2 separate regions of the Homo sapiens genome follow, and region 2 is linked to region 1. Evidence: fine-mapped expression QTL. A gene starts in region 1. The other region holds a variant in brackets. All regions are shown on one strand. Distances are from middle to middle. Region 1 holds the start of PCGF3 (polycomb group ring finger 3). Region 2 has its middle 61 kb from the start of NKX1-1.

Region 1 (8,323 bases):
CCAGCCCTGTTCCGCCAGCTTCTTTCCAGAGTCCTTGCCAGCTCCGGGCAGCTCCCACATGCCTGCCCCATCCTGGAGCTCTGGCTGTGGGCAGTCCCTCCTCTCCGTCCCTGCCCTGTGGACTCTGGTGTGTGGGCCTCCCTGACTCCCAGCTTTGCCTCCTCCGCCCAGCTCCTCTCCCTGAGTTGCAGCCAGGAGGCTTCCTTTAGGCCTCGCCCCATTTGCTCCTCTCTCAGGCACCATGTCCTGTGCTCCCTGATGCCCAGTGTCTGAAGATCGTTGGATGTATTTTGTCCACTGTTTCAGCTGCTTCGGGAAAGAGGGTAAACTCACGCCCTGCACACACATGCCGATGGCACAGAGATTGAGGCTGTGAGCTTTGCCTCCCCCTGGTGTGAAAATACGTCATCTTCTGGCTTTGCAGTCAGTGCTGTGCACCTCAGTTTTGATCTGCCTTGTAGTTTTATGAGTCTCATGAGGGAATTCGGGGAGATACAAAATTCTTGCTACTGCCACCATCTTCCCAGAATCCACAGGGATTTATTTATTTATTTATTTTATTTTGAGACAGGGTCTTCCTCTGTCATCTGGGCTGGAGTACAGCGGTGCAATCTCGGCTCACTGCAACCTCCACCTGCTGGGCTCAAGCAATCCTCCCACCTCAACCTCCCAAGGAGCTGAGGCCACAGATGCACACCACCATGCACCACCATGCCCAGATACTTGTTGTTGTTTATTTTTAGTATAAACAGGGTTTCACCATGTTGCTCAGGCTGGTCTTGAACTCCTGGGTTCAAATGATCCACCAGTCTCGGCCTTTCAAAGTGCTGGGGTTATAGGCATGAGCCACTGCACCCCACCTATTTTTATTTTTTTATTTTTTATTTTTTTTAAGAGACAGGGGCCAGGCATGGTGGCTCATGCCTGTAATCCCAGCACTTTGGGAGGCCGAGACAGGTGAATCACTTGAGGTCAGGAGTTCGAGACCAACCTGGCCAACATGCCAAGACTCCATCTCTACTAAAAATTCAAAAATTAGCCAGGTGTGGTGGCTTATGCCTGTAATCCCAGCTACTTGAGAGGCTGAGGCACGAGAATTGCTTGAACGTGGGAGGTGGAGGCTGCAGTGAGCCGAGATCGTGCCACTGCACTCCAGCCTGGGTGACAGTGTGAGACTCCATATCAAAGAAAAGAAAAGAAAAGAAAAGAAAAGAAAAGAAAAGAAAAGAAAAGAAAAGAAAAGAAAAGAAAAGAGATGGGGTCTCACTATGTTATTCCAGGCTGGTCTCAAACTCCTGCGCCCAAGTAATCCTCCCGCCTCAGCCTCCCAAAGTGCTGGGACTACAGGTGTGAGCCACACTGGCCTCCACAAAGCATTTTTAGGGCAGGCAAATGGGTAGAATGTTCAATGGTAAATGGGTAGAACTTCAATGGTCCCTGCTCCAGGTAAATGGCAGCAACTGTGAGCCCTTTTCTCATCTCGCAGGACAGCATATCCTGGATACCGGAGGTCACTCTGTAAGTAAGAGTGTGTGGTACCATCAGTCTCTTCTTTATCAGTCTTCTTTATCTTTATCTCTTCTTTATTCACTATCCAAGGTGTGGAGGTTCAAGAGTGTATCCGATTAACCGTGTGGATGGCCATGTTTTCAATTTTTCTGTTATACATTATGCTGCAATTAATAGCCTTGGTCATCCATCTTTTTTATTCCTGCCATTTATCTCTGGAATAAAGTCCTATTTGGGGGCCACTGGGCTGAAGGATAAATGCCCGTGTACTTTGCTGGATACTGTCAAACGCTCCTCTGCTCCCACCACTCACGTCTGAGAGCCCTGTTTCCTGACAGCCTTGCCAACAAGGTGAGTGAGTGTCAGGGAGAGCTCTGGGTGGAGTGAGCTTGGGGAAACAGGCAGAGGTGGGAGCAGGGACCTCAGAGGACGTCCTTATCATCACGCGCTGGGTGGAGCGCTCCCACTTGGGTGTGACGGGACCCGCTGGTTGGCTGCTCTGTTGAGGATTGACTGGGGGTGGGGGGCCCAAGGCTGTGGCACCAGTTCCAGCAGGACAGGGCGGGTTTGGGCCAGAGCAGCCTTGGAAAGCCATGGTTGGATGATGGGAAGTTTCCAAGACAGAGCTGGCAGGACTTTCTGATGAAAACAGAAGAGAGCAATTGGGAACAAGACCACATGTCTGTACCCCAGCAACAGAAAGGGTGGTGACAAAGGCAGTTGGATTTACCCCACAAAGTCCTGGAGCATTTGGTTGAGACATGGGGGTAGGCGCAGATGCCTGATGTGCTTAAGAGAGAACTCGGGGAGGGAAATTGGAGAAAGAGTTCCTGAAGAGTGACGCTGTGAAGACAGCAGAGAAGCACAGGGTCCAGCGAGCTCTTTCTGTTCTGCTCCATCCTCAAGGATGGGCAGACCCTCTGCCAGTTTGTGAGTGACCAGAATGATCTGCCAGAGAGGCACCCAATGGCCCTAGGAGGCCCTAGTGACTGGGTGGGCAGGGAGGGCGGACCGGCACCCTGGGGAAGGTTGGGGCACCCTCTGGGGGGGACAGGGGCCTCCCCTCTACTCCAGTCTGCTTGTGCCATGATTCCTGCCTCCCTTCTTTACAGCTCTGCTAAGGAATACGTGCCTGTATGTAATATGTGCACACCCCGAACTCACACCAGGACAGCACACACTGCCAACACCCTAGGCTTCTTTGGCCCCGATGCCTCCACCCTCGGGCCTTGGCTGAGTGAGGTCCCAGGAGGGTGCAGGTGGGAGACCTGGCTGGCTGCCGATGGGCCATGGATGGCCAGTTTGGGCATGAGAGGAAGAGGGTGCAGAGGACTCTGGGGTCTTGCCTCAGGACTGGCGGTGGGGGGTGGGGGGTCCTGGGGTACACAGCAGACTCAGGATGGCCTGGGGAAGCCATCCGGCCATGTGGCATTTAAGCTTCCTAATGACATTCAGCAGAAACAGAGCTGGACACAAGAGCCCAGGGCTCAGAGTCAAGGTCCGGGCACCGCTGGCACCCACCCAGGAGAGTAGTGGGAAGCCTAGGGGTAGGGTCTGCACCTCCTTGAGGAGGGGCCTGGGGCCTGGAGTGAGTTCTGAACTGCAGCTTACCACTCTGCCTCTTCCTGAGGCCACCACACTCAGCCCAGGACTGTTCCTGGCCTGCTGGCCACCCCCTGCCCCTTGCACCCCAGCACCAATACCTTGCCCCTGCCCTCCTTCTGGGATGATCCTCCAGTCCTCCCCTCCACATCTGGGGCCTGCCTCCACCAACTGAAAACTGCAGTCAGGGCTCTTGTGGAGGGCCAGCACCCCAGTACCCCAATCCCAGGCAGCCCTCTCCAGTGGGCCCCTCCCCTGCACTGGGCCACCCCATGGCTCCACGGAGCCCTCCCTGCCTCCCCTCCCCCGGGGGCAGCAGTGGCCACATTTAGTCCCTCCCCTTCACAGCAGCATGCCTGGGAATGCTGTACACATTCACATGTCTGCTGTCTGTCCTCCTCCCACCCGGATAACGTGTCCACCCAGTGCTGGAGATCTCAGCAGGCCCCCAGCCCTTCTCAGGCCCCTCTCAGCAGCGGACTCAAGCCGCTTCCCCACGTGCTGCACCATACCTGGGCCCGGGGCCCCCTGCCTGGTGGCTGCTCCCGGGGTCCAACTCTAGACTTCACGGGGACAGTCGCAGGGTCACTCCCTCAGCCACCACCTCTCCAGACGGGACGAGCTAATGACTCCCGACTCCTGCTCCATGCCTGCACCGCACAGCCTCGCAGCGAGTGCCCCTGGGCCTACGGGGCCTCCCCTCTCGCCACCAAGCCTCCACACTGCGCGGTGCCCCGCCGCCCGGAACCACAGTGGTCTCGCTTCCCACCCAAGACCCAACCTGCCCTCCCGTCCTGGGCCGCCAGCCCAGAACCCGCAAACCGGGAGACCCTAGGACCCCGCGTGCCTGCACGTCCGCCTCACCCCCGCACGCGCCCTCGGTCCTCGGATCCCGCCCTCTCAGGACAGTGCCAGTCCCACGAAGGCGCAAATGCCGCCCGTACTGCTCCACCCTGGCGGAGGGCACCCAGGTCGGAGAGTCCGCACGTGGGTGCCCTGTCCGTCCTGATGCTGAACATAACCTAAATACAAGCCTAAACATGACCAGACCCGAACCCCTGACCCTGACCCCACCCCTAATCCTGACCCTAACCCTAAACCCAACCCTAACCCTAAACCTAACCCCTAACTCTGACCCTACCCCTAATCCTGACCCTAACCGTAAAACCAACCCTAACCCTAACCCCTAATGCTGACCCTAACCCTAAATCCAGTCCTAACCCTGACTCTAACCCTAACCCTGACCCTAACCCTAAAACCCAACCCTAACCCTAACCCTGACCCTAACCCTAAACCCAACCCTAACCCTAGACCAGACCCTAACCCCTGACCCTGACCCCACCCCTAATCCTGACCCTAACCATAAACCCAACCCTAACCCTAACCCCTAATGCTGACCCTAGCCCTAAACCCAGTCCTAACCCTGACTCTAACCCCTAACCCTGACCCTAAACCTAAACCCAACCCTAACCCTGACTCTGACCCCTAACCCGACCCCTGACCCTAACACCGACCCTTAACCCTGCCGGGAGGGCGCTCAGTCCCGGCTCCCACAAAGGACAGCAGCACCCGTACTGGACGGCACCCCCGGAGGGACCCGGGCCTGAGGACTCTGCTGCTCCAGCGCCCCAGCTCACGATCGTCCAGGACCCGTCGGGTCCCTCAGCACAGCGCGGCCCTGTCGCTCTCCTGACCACGCCCCTCATGGCCCCGCCCTATGCCTCGCCCCTGGCCCTCGCGCCCCGCGGCTCCCTCCGCCGAGTCCAGGCCCGACGCGCCTGCGCCCTCTGAACACGCCCCTCCCCGCCCCTATCCCCACCCCTTACCGCCTGGCCCCGCCCACGCCCCTTGCCGCGGGGTGGGAGCCCAGACGCACACCGCGCATGCTCCGAGCGCGGCGCCCCCGACGCGGCGCTCGGCTCGGCTCGGGCATTTCCGCCTCTTTGTTTTAAACTCCGGACGGGCTTTTTTCTCCTCCTCTTGGGGGGGACCCAGAGGGAGCGGCGCCCCCTCCCCCCTCCGGCGCGGACCCCGCGTGCGCCTTGCTCGCCCGCAGCCCCGAGACCGCAGGTCAGTGAGTCCGCCCCGCCTGGCCTGGGCCCTCGGCGCCCGCTCCTCAGGCTGCGGCCTCGGCCCGTGTCCGGCCCGGAAGGCTCCGAACCCCGGGCCCGCGCTCCGTCGTCCCCGTCGGCCTGGCCCGGGAAGCCCTTGGCAGGCCCGGGAGGGCCGGCACCCCAGCCCAGTCAGGACTCCGGGAGGTCGAAGACCCCAGCCCAGGCAGGACTCCGGGAGGGCCAAGAGCCCAGCCCAGGCAGGACCCCGGGAGGGCTGGGACTCCAGCCTAGGCAGGACGCAGGGAGGGCAAGACCCCAGCCCAGGCAGGACTCCGGGAGGTCGAAGACCCCAGCCCAGGCAGGACCCAGGGAGGGCTGGGACAGCAGCCCAGGCAGGACGCAGGGAGGGCAAGACCCCAGTCCAGGCAGGACGCAGGGAGGGCAAGACCCCAGCCCAGGCAGGACTCCGGGAGGTCGAAGACCCCAGCCCAGGCAGGACCCAGGGAGGGCAAAGACCCCAGAACAGGGAGGGCCAAGACCCCAGACCAGGCAGGACCCCGGGAGGGCCAAGACCCCAGACCAGGCAGGACCCAGGGAGGGCGAAGACCCCAGCCCAGGCAGGACCGCGGGAGGGCAGGGACCCCAGACCAGGCAGGACCCCGGGAGGGCCAAGACCCCAGACCAGGCAGGACCCAGGGAGGGCGAAGACCCCAGCCCAGGCAGGACCGCGGGAGGGCAGGGACCCCAGACCAGGCAGGACCCTGGGAAGGTCGCGACCCCAGCCCAGGCAGGACCCAGGGAGGGCGAAGACCCCAGACCAGGCAGGACCCAGGTGAGGGCGAAGACCCCAGCCCAGGCAGGACCGCGGGAGGGCAGGGACCCCAGACCAGGCAGGACCCTGGGAAGGTCGCGACCCCAGCCCAGGCAGGACCCAGGGAGGGCGAAGACCCCAGACCAGGCAGGACCCAGGTGAGGGCAAAGACCCCAGCCCAGGCAGGACCGCGGGAGGGTAGGGACCCCAGCCCAGGCAGGACCCTGGGAAGGTCGCGACCCCAGCCCAGGCAGGACCCCGGGAGGGCTGGGTCTTCAGACCAGGCAGGACCTGAAGAGAGTTGGGCTCTGGGATTGCACAGGACCCCCAGAGTGCTAGGACACAATGACACATCATCCAGGAGGGTCTGACCCTGGGACAGGTCACCGAGAAGGGCTGGGACCCCAAGATGGGTCACCAAGGAGGGTCGGACCTGGCCACCTGGCAGGGCCCGGGGGGGCTAGGACCCTGGGAAGAATCACGGAGGAGGGCCAGACGTAGGGACCAGGCAGAATCCAAAGAATGCCAGGACCCCAGAATAGATCCCCCAGGAAGGTCCTGCCTTAAAGTGGGTCACAGACGAGGGCCAGGACCCCATGACCATAATTCAGGAGGACCTGACCCTGGAGCAGTCTTGTGAGTCCTGTGAGCACTGCTGGGACCCTGAGACTGCCCCGTCTCCCCCGGGACCCTGAGACAGCCCTGTTTTCCCCTGGGGGCCGGGACCCTGGGACAGCCTGTTTTCACCCGGGGGCCGGGACCCTGGGACAGCCCTGTTTTCCCCTGGGGGTCGGGACCCTGGGACAGCTCTGTTTTCCCCTGGGGGTCGGGACTCTGGGACAGCTCTGTTTTCCCCTGGGGGTCGGGACCCTGGGACAGCCCTGTTTTCCCCTGGGGGTCGGGACCCTGGGACAGCTCTGTTTTCCCCTGGGGGCCGGGACCCTGAGACAGCTCTGTTTTCACCTGGGGGCCGGGACCCTGAGACAGCTCTGTTTTCACCTGGGGGCCGGGACCCTGGGACAGCTCTGTTTTCCCCTGGGGGCCGGGACCCTGGGACAGCCCTGTTTTCCCCTGGGGGTCGGGACCCTGGGACAGCCCTGTTTTCACCTGGGGGTCGGGACCCTGAGACAGCCCTGTTTTCCCCTGGGGGTCGGGACCCTGGGACAGCCCTGTTTTCCCCTGGGGGCCGGGACCCTGGGACAGCCCTGTTTTCCCCTGGGGGTCGGGACCCTGGGACAGCCCTGTTTTCCCCTGGGGGCCGGGACCCTGGGACAGCCCTGTTTTCACCTGGGGGCCGGGACCCTGGGACAGCCCTGTTTTCACCTGGGGGCCGGGACCCTGAGACAGCCCTGTTTTCTCCCAGGGCCCGGCACCCTGAGACTGGACAGTGAGAAGGGCTCATGACATGGACAGGCTTCTAGATGACCAGGACCTCAAACGGGGTCACTTAGGGTCGGGACACTGGTGTGGACTGGGAAGAAGGCTAGGCTCTCAAAGAGGACCTGATGAGAGCTGGAACTTCCAGACAGGTCCTCAGAGGGCTGGGACTCCTGAACAAGTCACTGAGGAGCATGTAGGCCCCAAGACTGGACTGTAAGGAGTACTGGGACCCTCGGGGGGGAATCCAGCAGTGTCCTGAATCTGCCCAGTCCACTCAGCTGGATGCACCTGCTGTGAAGGCCAGGCATCTGGCATCCTGGTACCCGAGGCCCTTTCCATGAGACCCTGGGCCAGCCCCACAGCCCCTGCACATGAACCGCCTAGGTGATACCTGGGGTAGGTATGAGGCAGGGGCCTCAGGGTTCCAGGAGCTCCCAGCCCACAGGCTCCACACCTCAGGCTGGCACTGCACCCTCCCACTCAGCCCCTCGTCCGGGGCTGCTGTCCTGTCCTTGCCTTGGCTGTGGTCCGTGTCCAGCACCTTCAACCCCTCCTGCCCCTCTCCCCATCTTCAAGGTCATGTGAGTGCCCCACTTCCTCAGTGTAGAGGCGTTTCCAGTGTCCGGGAGACTTGGAGGAGGGGTGGGGTCTGAGCTGGGATGTGGACTCCTGGGCATATTTTGGGGACAGTTGGTCCAAGTCAGGAAAGTTGGAGCAGGCAAGGCTATTTCCCACTCCCTCTCTAGTAAGGGAAGGAATTAAAGGATCCTGGTGGTGATCGGGCTGGGGACGGGGGTTGGTTTATTTCTCTGAAACCTTTGAATCAGCCTTTTATCAAAAACTTGTGGGTGTTTTCCTTTAATTTGGAAGTGGTAATGAAAAAGTGGGGTGCATGAGGTATTCAGAAGCGAGCGGTCTATGCTGTCCTTTGACTAGGGAAGGGTTGTCTAGTGACATCTTGTCAGGG
Region 2 (8,323 bases), 760 kb after region 1:
CTGAACCGTTGCCCCCTCCTCGCCAGGCAGCCTGCCCTCTCCCGTCTGTGCCCCTCTCTCCCACCAGATTTCTGCTGCAGGAAGGCAGCGACTCAGTGCCCACAAAGCTTCATGAAATAAGTGCAGGAGTGGGGCTGGGGTCCCAGCTTTGTCTGGGCCTGGGTTCAAACCCAAGGATCTCTGTTGGAGGCAGTTTCTGGAAACCCAAGGTCCAGTCGGCGCGTACCTGATTCACCACTGTCGGTCTCTGGACCCCTGTGCTGTGGGCAGGCCCTGGGGGGTGGCTGGTGGTTGTGGGGTGCACCGTGTCCCCAGGCATCCCCAAGGGAGGGGGCAGCCGCAGCCCCCTGACCCCGTGGCCGACACGGCTCCCCCACCCCTGGTCCTCCTGCTGCCAGGCCTTCTGCCCCCTCCTACCTCGGGTGTCCCCTCCCCAGCCCCTGCCCTCCCTCCCCGGAGGGCCCCTCAGGCCCCTCACTCCTGCCACTGCCTCTGCAGGATCCAGTGTTCCCCCAGCCAACCCGAGAAGACCAGAAGGCCCTGGGAGACCCGAGGGAATGTGGGTGAAGGTTGGGATTTCTGCACTGTGCAGGACGGGGAGACACAGAGGCCCCGGAGTGCGGCTCAGGGGGCGCCGGCAGCCCCACAGCGTCAGCAGGAAAGGAGGCCATGGACACCAGACTGCCTGGCTGCTCCTTCCCTCTTCTGGGCGTCTGATTGCCCAGGGTGGGAGAGGTGGACAGTTAATTAAAAAGCAGCTAATAGCGGCCCTGGGGTCGGCTGCGTGGGTGCTGGGGATATTGGCCCATGGATCACTGTCCTGTGATTGCTGCTCGTGCCCACCCCGAGGGGTGAGGGTCCCTCTGGCTGGTCAGCGCGCCGGCTGCCCCCGCACCCTGAAAGGAATTTAATTCAGGCTACATTTAATTAGGAAAAGAGGGCTTACGGAGGATCATGAAGTTGAAACCTCTTTTAAGAATGGAAATAAACTCTTTCCTGGTCCTCGGCAAGCCAGACAGAGACCCTCAAAGTCAGGTGTCATCGGGCACTGGGTGGCCCGTAGGCTGTGTGGGAGGAAGGCCAGAGCTGGGCTGTTAGACGTCCTTGGTGAACCTGCCGCTGAGTGGAGGTGAGGGGCGGGTGGCCTGGCCGAGCCCAACCCTTCGCCTTCTGATTGGTGGGCAGTGTCCCCGCAGGGCTGGCTGGGGCCACCTCCCTCTGCCAGCATCAGGTCCTTACGTATCAGGATCCGAGGGCCTCTGGTCCTGCTCCCCCCACCCTCTGGGACTCACCCGTTGAGCCCACACCAAGGGTGGCCTGTGTCAGCTCTGCCTCCGGCTGGACCCTGACGGACACAGGAATTGGCTGTCTCCTGTGGGTCACCAGGCTCCGTGCTGGGTCCCAGGGCACAGGCGGTTGACTCCAGCCCCTGCTGCAGGCTGTCTTGAAGAGGATTCTGAGCAGCTGGGCAGGGAGGGAGCTCTGAGCGGGAGTGGAGAGGCTGGGGTGGAAGGGCCTCAGGTGGAGCCTCTCCCAGGCTGCAGCGGCCTCCCCAGGTTGGTGCTGTGGTCCCCACCCCACCACATGGGACAAGCCCTGCAGGCCTGAGGCCAGGCCAGGGCCTAGCAGAAGCCAAAACTCACACACATGGGTGGAAATGTAACAGTTTACATCCAGAAGGGGCCTTTCCCTTAGGGGCTGTAGCCAGCGGGCAGCTCCTGCCTCACCCCTGCCCCTGCCCTCTAAGCCTGCTCTCTGGACTAAAGCCGGACCTGGCAGCCAGACTGTGCGGTGCTGGGGAGGAGACGCCGGGCACTGTGGTGGAGGGGGCCAGGAGAAGGGATGTCAGAGGGCGGGGAGATCTGTGGGGGCAGCCTCAAAAACAGCTGGACAGACAGCCCAGTGCAGGGGGAGCCGCCGAGGCCTTGAGGGAGGAGACTGGGCCAGAGCAAGGGGCAGGAGAGGGAGGATGCGTCCGTGGTGGTGACCAGTGAGAAGGTCCCTGAGTGGCCAGGCAGACTCGGCAGGGGTCCCCCAGAGTGGACAAGTGGGCGGGGCCGAGGTCTGTTTTGGGGACGAGGAGGACAGGGCAAGCCGCGCAACCTTGAGTATGAGGACCACTCTCATCTGTAGAAGGAGCACTGTGGTCCCTGCCTCACAGGGTGCTGAGGAGGAGGAGGCGGGGAGGAGCCCAGTGTGGCCTCAGCCCCTGGGGGCATTTCCAATCCTGCCTCTGGAGCTCGGCCACCCCGAGCTCGGCCCAGCACCCCAGCTCTGCTCCCTGCAGACTCTCCTGCCCTGGCTCCGTGCTGCTTTCTCTGTCTCTCCAGGCCCCATCCTCTAACTGTGGGCACCCGGTGCTGCCCTGACCCCTCCCTGCCCTGTCTGCACTCATCCCTCATCCACACATTGAGGACCCCAAGTGGGTGCCTCCAGCTCCACTGGCTCTTCTGAGCTTGATGACCCCCACGGCTGGCCCCTCACCCTCACGTCAGTGCCCCCCACCACCCCATCTTCACAGACCTCTCAGTCTCTGTCCTTGGCGTGTTTCTGGAATCCACTCATCTGCCCCCACGGCCTCCCAGGGCCTGGTCCCTGCACCTGCCACGGCCTCCTCGGGGCCCTCCCGCCCCACTGCCCACACCCTGTGCCAGCTCCTTCCCAGTTTGCTCCAAGTGCAGCAGGCCGGCCTCCCTGCCTTGGTGTGGGCTCTATGCCGTTCACTTCCTGGGCCCCAGAGCCCAGGACAGGACCCTGCAGGTGGGTGCCCCTCGGTGCCCACCCGCTAAGCAGTGAGCAAGGGCCCTGAAGCTTGTGTGGTCCAGAGAGTCCACGCGTGGCCACTGAGTGCCACCCTGGGACTAGGGACAGGATGTGGGGTGGCCGCTGGGGAGGGGAGTCCAGTGCTCCACAGGGACTTACTTCACCTTCCATGAAGTTAAAGGTGGAGTGGGGAAGGCAGAGGTCCCTGGCCGGGGTGGGGAGAGTGGGCAAAGGATACCGGCCCGGGTGGGGAGAACCCTTTCTGATCCTCCTCACAGACCCCAGGCCCCACCTGGGGGCTTCTGTCCATTGGCTTCGGAGCTGCAGCCTGAGACCTTGGCCTCACGGCCCACTCTGGAGTCCCCCCACTGCAGCC[T/TC]CCCCCCTGCCCCACCTCCGCCACACACACAATCACCTCTGGGACTGTGGCTGTTTCCAAAATTCCTGGGACCCAGGGAGGCCACAGCACTGGAGGACAGCCACCAGCAGGTGGGAAGCGGGCTTGGCCGGGGCGCTGCCCGTCCCGCCCCATTGGTTCGTGTGCAAGCAGCTCTTGAGTCCACCCCTCCAGGGGCCTGCAAGTTCATTTGCTTGTCTTACACCTGGCAGCCCTGAGCACTGAGGCTTGATGAGGCTAAGGAGAGCTGGAGGAAGACCCTATTGATTTTAATTACCCAGAAACAGCCCACAGGGACAAAGGACTTTGGCAGTTTATTTAGCCAGGCTGCGCTGCGCTATTGTGGAAGGAGAGGTCAAATCAGCCGCCCTCATTATAACTATAATAATAAGGCCAAAACGCTGCTCGGGGCTGAGGGCCTTTTTTTTTTAAAGCAATAACCTCACTGCCCCACCCCCTCACGCCCCTCTTCAGCAGGCTTGAACAACCAGGAGCAATTACATGCTGTCGATATTAATTCAATTAAATCCAGGTTATTTATTGGGTATTATGGAAAAGGATTCTCTGGCCTTACAGAGATGGGGCATGACTGAGGGAGTGAGCAGGATACAGAAGCCTCAAGCAGAATTGACTGTGGGCATGGGCCAGAAAATCAGCACATCTCCAGGAGGAAGGTAGAGAGCGTAGGGCACTGTGGGGGCTGCTTGCGTGGCATTTCTTCTGGGACTGGTACAGAAGAAGATCAGAAGGTGTTTGAGTGTTTGAACCCTTCTAAAAAGTGGCCTTGTAGAAGACCGAGTGGCCTTCAGCAAGTCATTCAGTGCTTCTCTTTACCTTTGACTTTGCAGCTGAAAATTGGTTTTGGATGATGATGATGATGATGATGATGATGATGACAGTCATGGTGGTGATAAAGGAGATAACGAAAGGGTTGATGGCAGTGACAATAATGGTGATGATGATGGATGATTGTGAAGATAATGAAGAAGATCATCATTGGGTTGACAATAGTGACAATGGTGATGGTGATAATGGTGTTGATTGTGATGATGGTGGTGATGATGGTGATTATGGTGATGGTGATGATGATGGTGGTAGTGATGATGGTGGTGATGGTGATGATGATAGTGATGATGATGGTGGTGATGGTGGTGATGATAGTGATGATGGTGGTGATGGTGATGGTGGTGGTGGTGATGATAGTGATGATGGTGGTGATGGTGGTGATGATGGTGATGATGGTGGTGATGGTGGTGATTATGGTGATGATGATGGTGGTAGTGATGATGGTGAAGATGATGGTGATGGTAATGATGGTGGTGATGGTGATGATGATGGTGGTGATGGTGGTGATTATGATGATGGTGATGGTGGTGACCATGGTGATGACGATGATGGTAGGGATGATGGTGATAGTAATGGTGATGCTGCTGCTGATGGTGATGGTGATGGTGATGATGATGGTGAAGATGATGGTGATGGTGATGATGATGGTGACTGTGATGATGATGATGGTGATGGTGATGATGATGGTGACTGTGATGATGATGATGGTGATGGTGATAATGATGGTGGTGGTGATCGTGGTGACCATGGTGATGACAATGGTGGTGATGATTGTGATGATGGTAGGGATAATGATGATGATAGTGATGGTGATGGTGATGGTGATGCTACTGATGATGGTGATGATGATGATGATGGTGACGTTGATGATAATGGCGATGTTGATGATAATGGTGATGATTATGTTAATGCTGACAGTGATGATGCGATGCTGCTGCTGATGGTGGTGATGGTGGTGATAATGTTGGTGGGGATGGTGTGAATGATGATAATAATGATGGTGATAGTGATGATGGGGATGATGATAATGGTGATGATTATGGTGGTGATGATGGGTGAATATGAGCAATGATGATGTGAGAGATAATGGGAAAGACATCTGCCTTGCTGACATCAAACTGTTGCCATTAGATTAAATGGGATAATGGGTTTTTGAAACCTTGGTAGAGCACACAAGTACAAGAGGCTGTGAATGAAATAGGAGACACCAGGTGGAAGGCCACGGATGAGCATCAGTGCCTGTGGCAGGAGGGCCATAAAGGACCCCACATTTGGCGCCCAACCTTAAAGGGAGAGCAGGCCACCGGTACTGGTGACACCTTCCACTCTAGGCTGAGAATGCAGGGTCCAGAGGAGGCCCCCAGTGGCTGTCAATATCAAGGGACAGAGAAAAGTGCCTGCTGAGTGCCCACTAAGGGCTGGGCACTGTGCAAAGAGAGCTTTACCCATTTAGTCCTCACAATGACCCTTGGGGCTAGGGACATTTCAGGGACCTGGTTCTCCTGGATAATTCCTGTCCACACTGGCTGACCAGGCATCGTTTTTACACACCTGCTTCCACTCTTTCCTTTGGATGATAGAGCGCAGGCCACCTCAGCAGTGGGAGTTTCGCCCCTATTTTACAGATGCAAGCACTGAGGCTCCCAGAGGTGGAGGCTGTGGAGCTAGGTCTGCGGATGGCTCTAAGCGCTGCACCCTGCTCCTGCTGAGTTTCGGGCTGACTGGCAAGGGGGGAAGGTTCAGGGTCTTGGGACCCTGAAGGGCATTGCAGAGCCCTGCTGCCTGGCTTTGAGGAGGCCCCCAGGGTAGGGAGTGGAGATCACAGGGGGCTGGCCCCTGTTTGATGACATGGCTGGGACTGACATAAGATTCTCAGTGGATTCAAGTGACCTCTGAACATCAGGGTATAGCTGTGGGTACCCCAAAGGGCCATGAGAAGGGTAGGAGGCTTGGAGGGGAGGTGGTGGGAGGTGGGCAGAAGCTGTGGGCCTAGGGACCAACCAGAGATTTTGCCAACACAGTGGGCACACCAATGTCCTGTGGCTGCCATAACAAAGTGCCCCAACCCGAGGGGCTAACAATGCCAGAAGTGCGTCCTCTCACAGGCTGGAGCCCAGAAGCCTGAAACCCAGGTGCTGGCAGAGCTACACTCTCTGCAGTCTCCAGGGGAGGACCCTTCCTGCGTCTCCCCAGATTCCTGGGCTGCTGGCCTTCCTGGATGCCATCCTCTTGGCTTGTAGCAGCACACTCCACCTGCCTCTGTCTTCACATGGCCATCTCCCTGCGTGGGTGTCTCCGTGTCTCTGTTTTCTCTTCTTACAAGGACACCAGTCATTGGATTAGGGCCCGCCCTACCCATGTGACTCCATTTTACCTTGAGTACATCTGCAAAGCCTGTTTCTGAATGAGTCACACTCATGGGTACTGATGTACAGGAATTTCAGAGGGATGCTGTTCCACCCAGTGCACTACAGCACACAGGCCTGCAGCCAGTGGGCCGGGGGCCGCGGCACCTACTGCCAGAGCTGCTGGGTGGCCTGGTGGCCAGTCGCTGGTGACCCTTCCCAAGGCCACCACCCTCGTGTCCATGCCTGACCGCGCCCTGCATGCTGACAGTGTCCTGGCCCTGACTCACAGCCAGAGCCCAGTATCATCAAGACGCTGGTGGCGGCCACGACCCCAGGGCTGTGCGTGTTGCCTCTGGCTCCTGAGGCGGGCTCCGCGGCCTCATGCTGGACACCGTGTCTAACCGGCCAAGATTGACCTGTTTGGGGCTCCTCACTGCAGCTGAGCGATTTGATCTGAGACCCAGACAGCAGTCAGGGCAGTAATTGGATGTTATGAGATCGGAGGGCCACTCTCCGAGGAGGGGGCAGCTGAGCGGCCGTGGGCAGCTGGAGGAGGGGGCTGCGGCTGGCAGTGGGGGTGGGGCAGCCCCTGTCCGCTGGAGATAAGCCCCTCATCTTCAGCCCCTAATCTCCTGCTGGGGTCATGGACAGAGCCCGAGGCAAGATGGAATGAATATGGCCACTGTCCAGCCACTGCCTGGCACTGCTGCCCCGAGGGTGCTGTACAATTAGTTTTAAATATCAATTTCACGGCTGCTCAGGGGAGAGAACAAGCAGGCAGGCAGGCTTCACCCAAAGCAAACCAGGTGTTTCCTACAGGCTTCAACTTTGTAAGAAAAGGCAAAAGCCATCAAGGACATGTCCAGCTGAGCTGACGCCAATGCAACTTCTCTGGGTCCTTCAAAAATCGGCCCCAAGTCCCCCACACTGCTCCTCCCCTGGACCTGCTCCATCCTGACCCCAATGCTGTAACCAGCCCTCCTAGCACCCTTGTCCCTGCGAATCCCTCTCAGGCTCTGTCTCCTCCTCCAGGAACCCCTCGCCGAGAGCTCCTTCTCAGACCCCAGGCCCTGGCGTGGGCCCAGCTCTGCCCAGGCTCCAGGCCAGTGCTTCTCCTTCCCCCGGAGACCCGGCCAGCCCAGCCCTACTGCCCTCACAGGCAGCTCTAGCTGGCCAGGTGGGGATGTGTCTAGGAAGCAGGAGGGGCCGAGGCCTGGGAGGGTTTGTGGGAGTGGGTCAGGGCATCTGCTGGGACCAATGCTGACCATGGGTAGAGGACCCGAGGGCACCGCCCAACAGGGCAGGAGAGTGAGGCACAGGGGTTAAGATGGCGCTGGAAGTCAGGGGAGTGAGGCCTGAGAAGGCCCCAAGGAGGAAGGGGCTTTAACTCTGACTTTAAAACAGGGGCCAATCTGGCTAGGAGGAGGGGTGGTGAAGGGGCCCTCTTGTGGGGTCCCTCATGAGCAGGGGACAGGGAAATCCTGGGGAGGTTCCCCAGGAGGGCAGCTCCCAGTGTCCCCACCCAGCTGTCTGACTCCACATGGCCAGCGTCACCCATCACACCCCGGCCAGACCTGGGGCTGGCTGAGCTGTCAGGGCGCAGAGGGTGGGTGTAGTCCCAAGTGGACGTCACTGCTGAGCTTGGCAGGGCGCATGTGGTTCCCAGAGGGACTCACTATTGGGCCTGGCAGAGTGGGCGTGGTCCTGAGTGGGGCTCACTGCTGAGCCTGGCCAGCCCCTTCTGGAACCAGGTGGCTGATCCCTGCAGGAGCTCATCGCACACAGCCAGTGCCTGCACCTCGGGCGCTCTAGAGGGGTTTATTGAAGAAAGGAACTTGCACGCATCAGGCATTCGCCCTCTCAGTCAGGCGCAGCTGGACACCTCGGGTGGGGACCGTGTGGGGAACACGGCTGCGCTCCGGGCTCCGGGCGGCTCCTTGGCGCCGGCTGGCCGGGTGGGCTTTCCATGGAC

Evidence for each region. PIP is the estimated chance that this variant, and not a neighbour inherited with it, causes the effect.
Region 2: its variant is the best candidate, but not a certain one, in a credible set for the expression of PCGF3 in monocytes after R848 (Quach 2016, PIP 0.86).

The regions. Positions count from the first base shown.
Region 1 is chr4:700,790-709,112 of GRCh38, forward strand. It overlaps PCGF3 (polycomb group ring finger 3), which reads left to right and starts at 5,043. Exons shown (of 11, transcript NM_006315.7): 1 at 5,043-5,181. RefSeq lists enhancers at 5-505, 3,063-3,790, 4,831-5,816, 5,817-6,801 and a silencer at 4,766-5,465.
Region 2 is chr4:1,463,513-1,471,835 of GRCh38, forward strand. No RefSeq gene overlaps it. Among named protein-coding and RNA genes, the nearest start is that of NKX1-1, 61 kb to the left of the region's middle. The variant T/TC (reference allele first, on the strand shown) is at 3,140.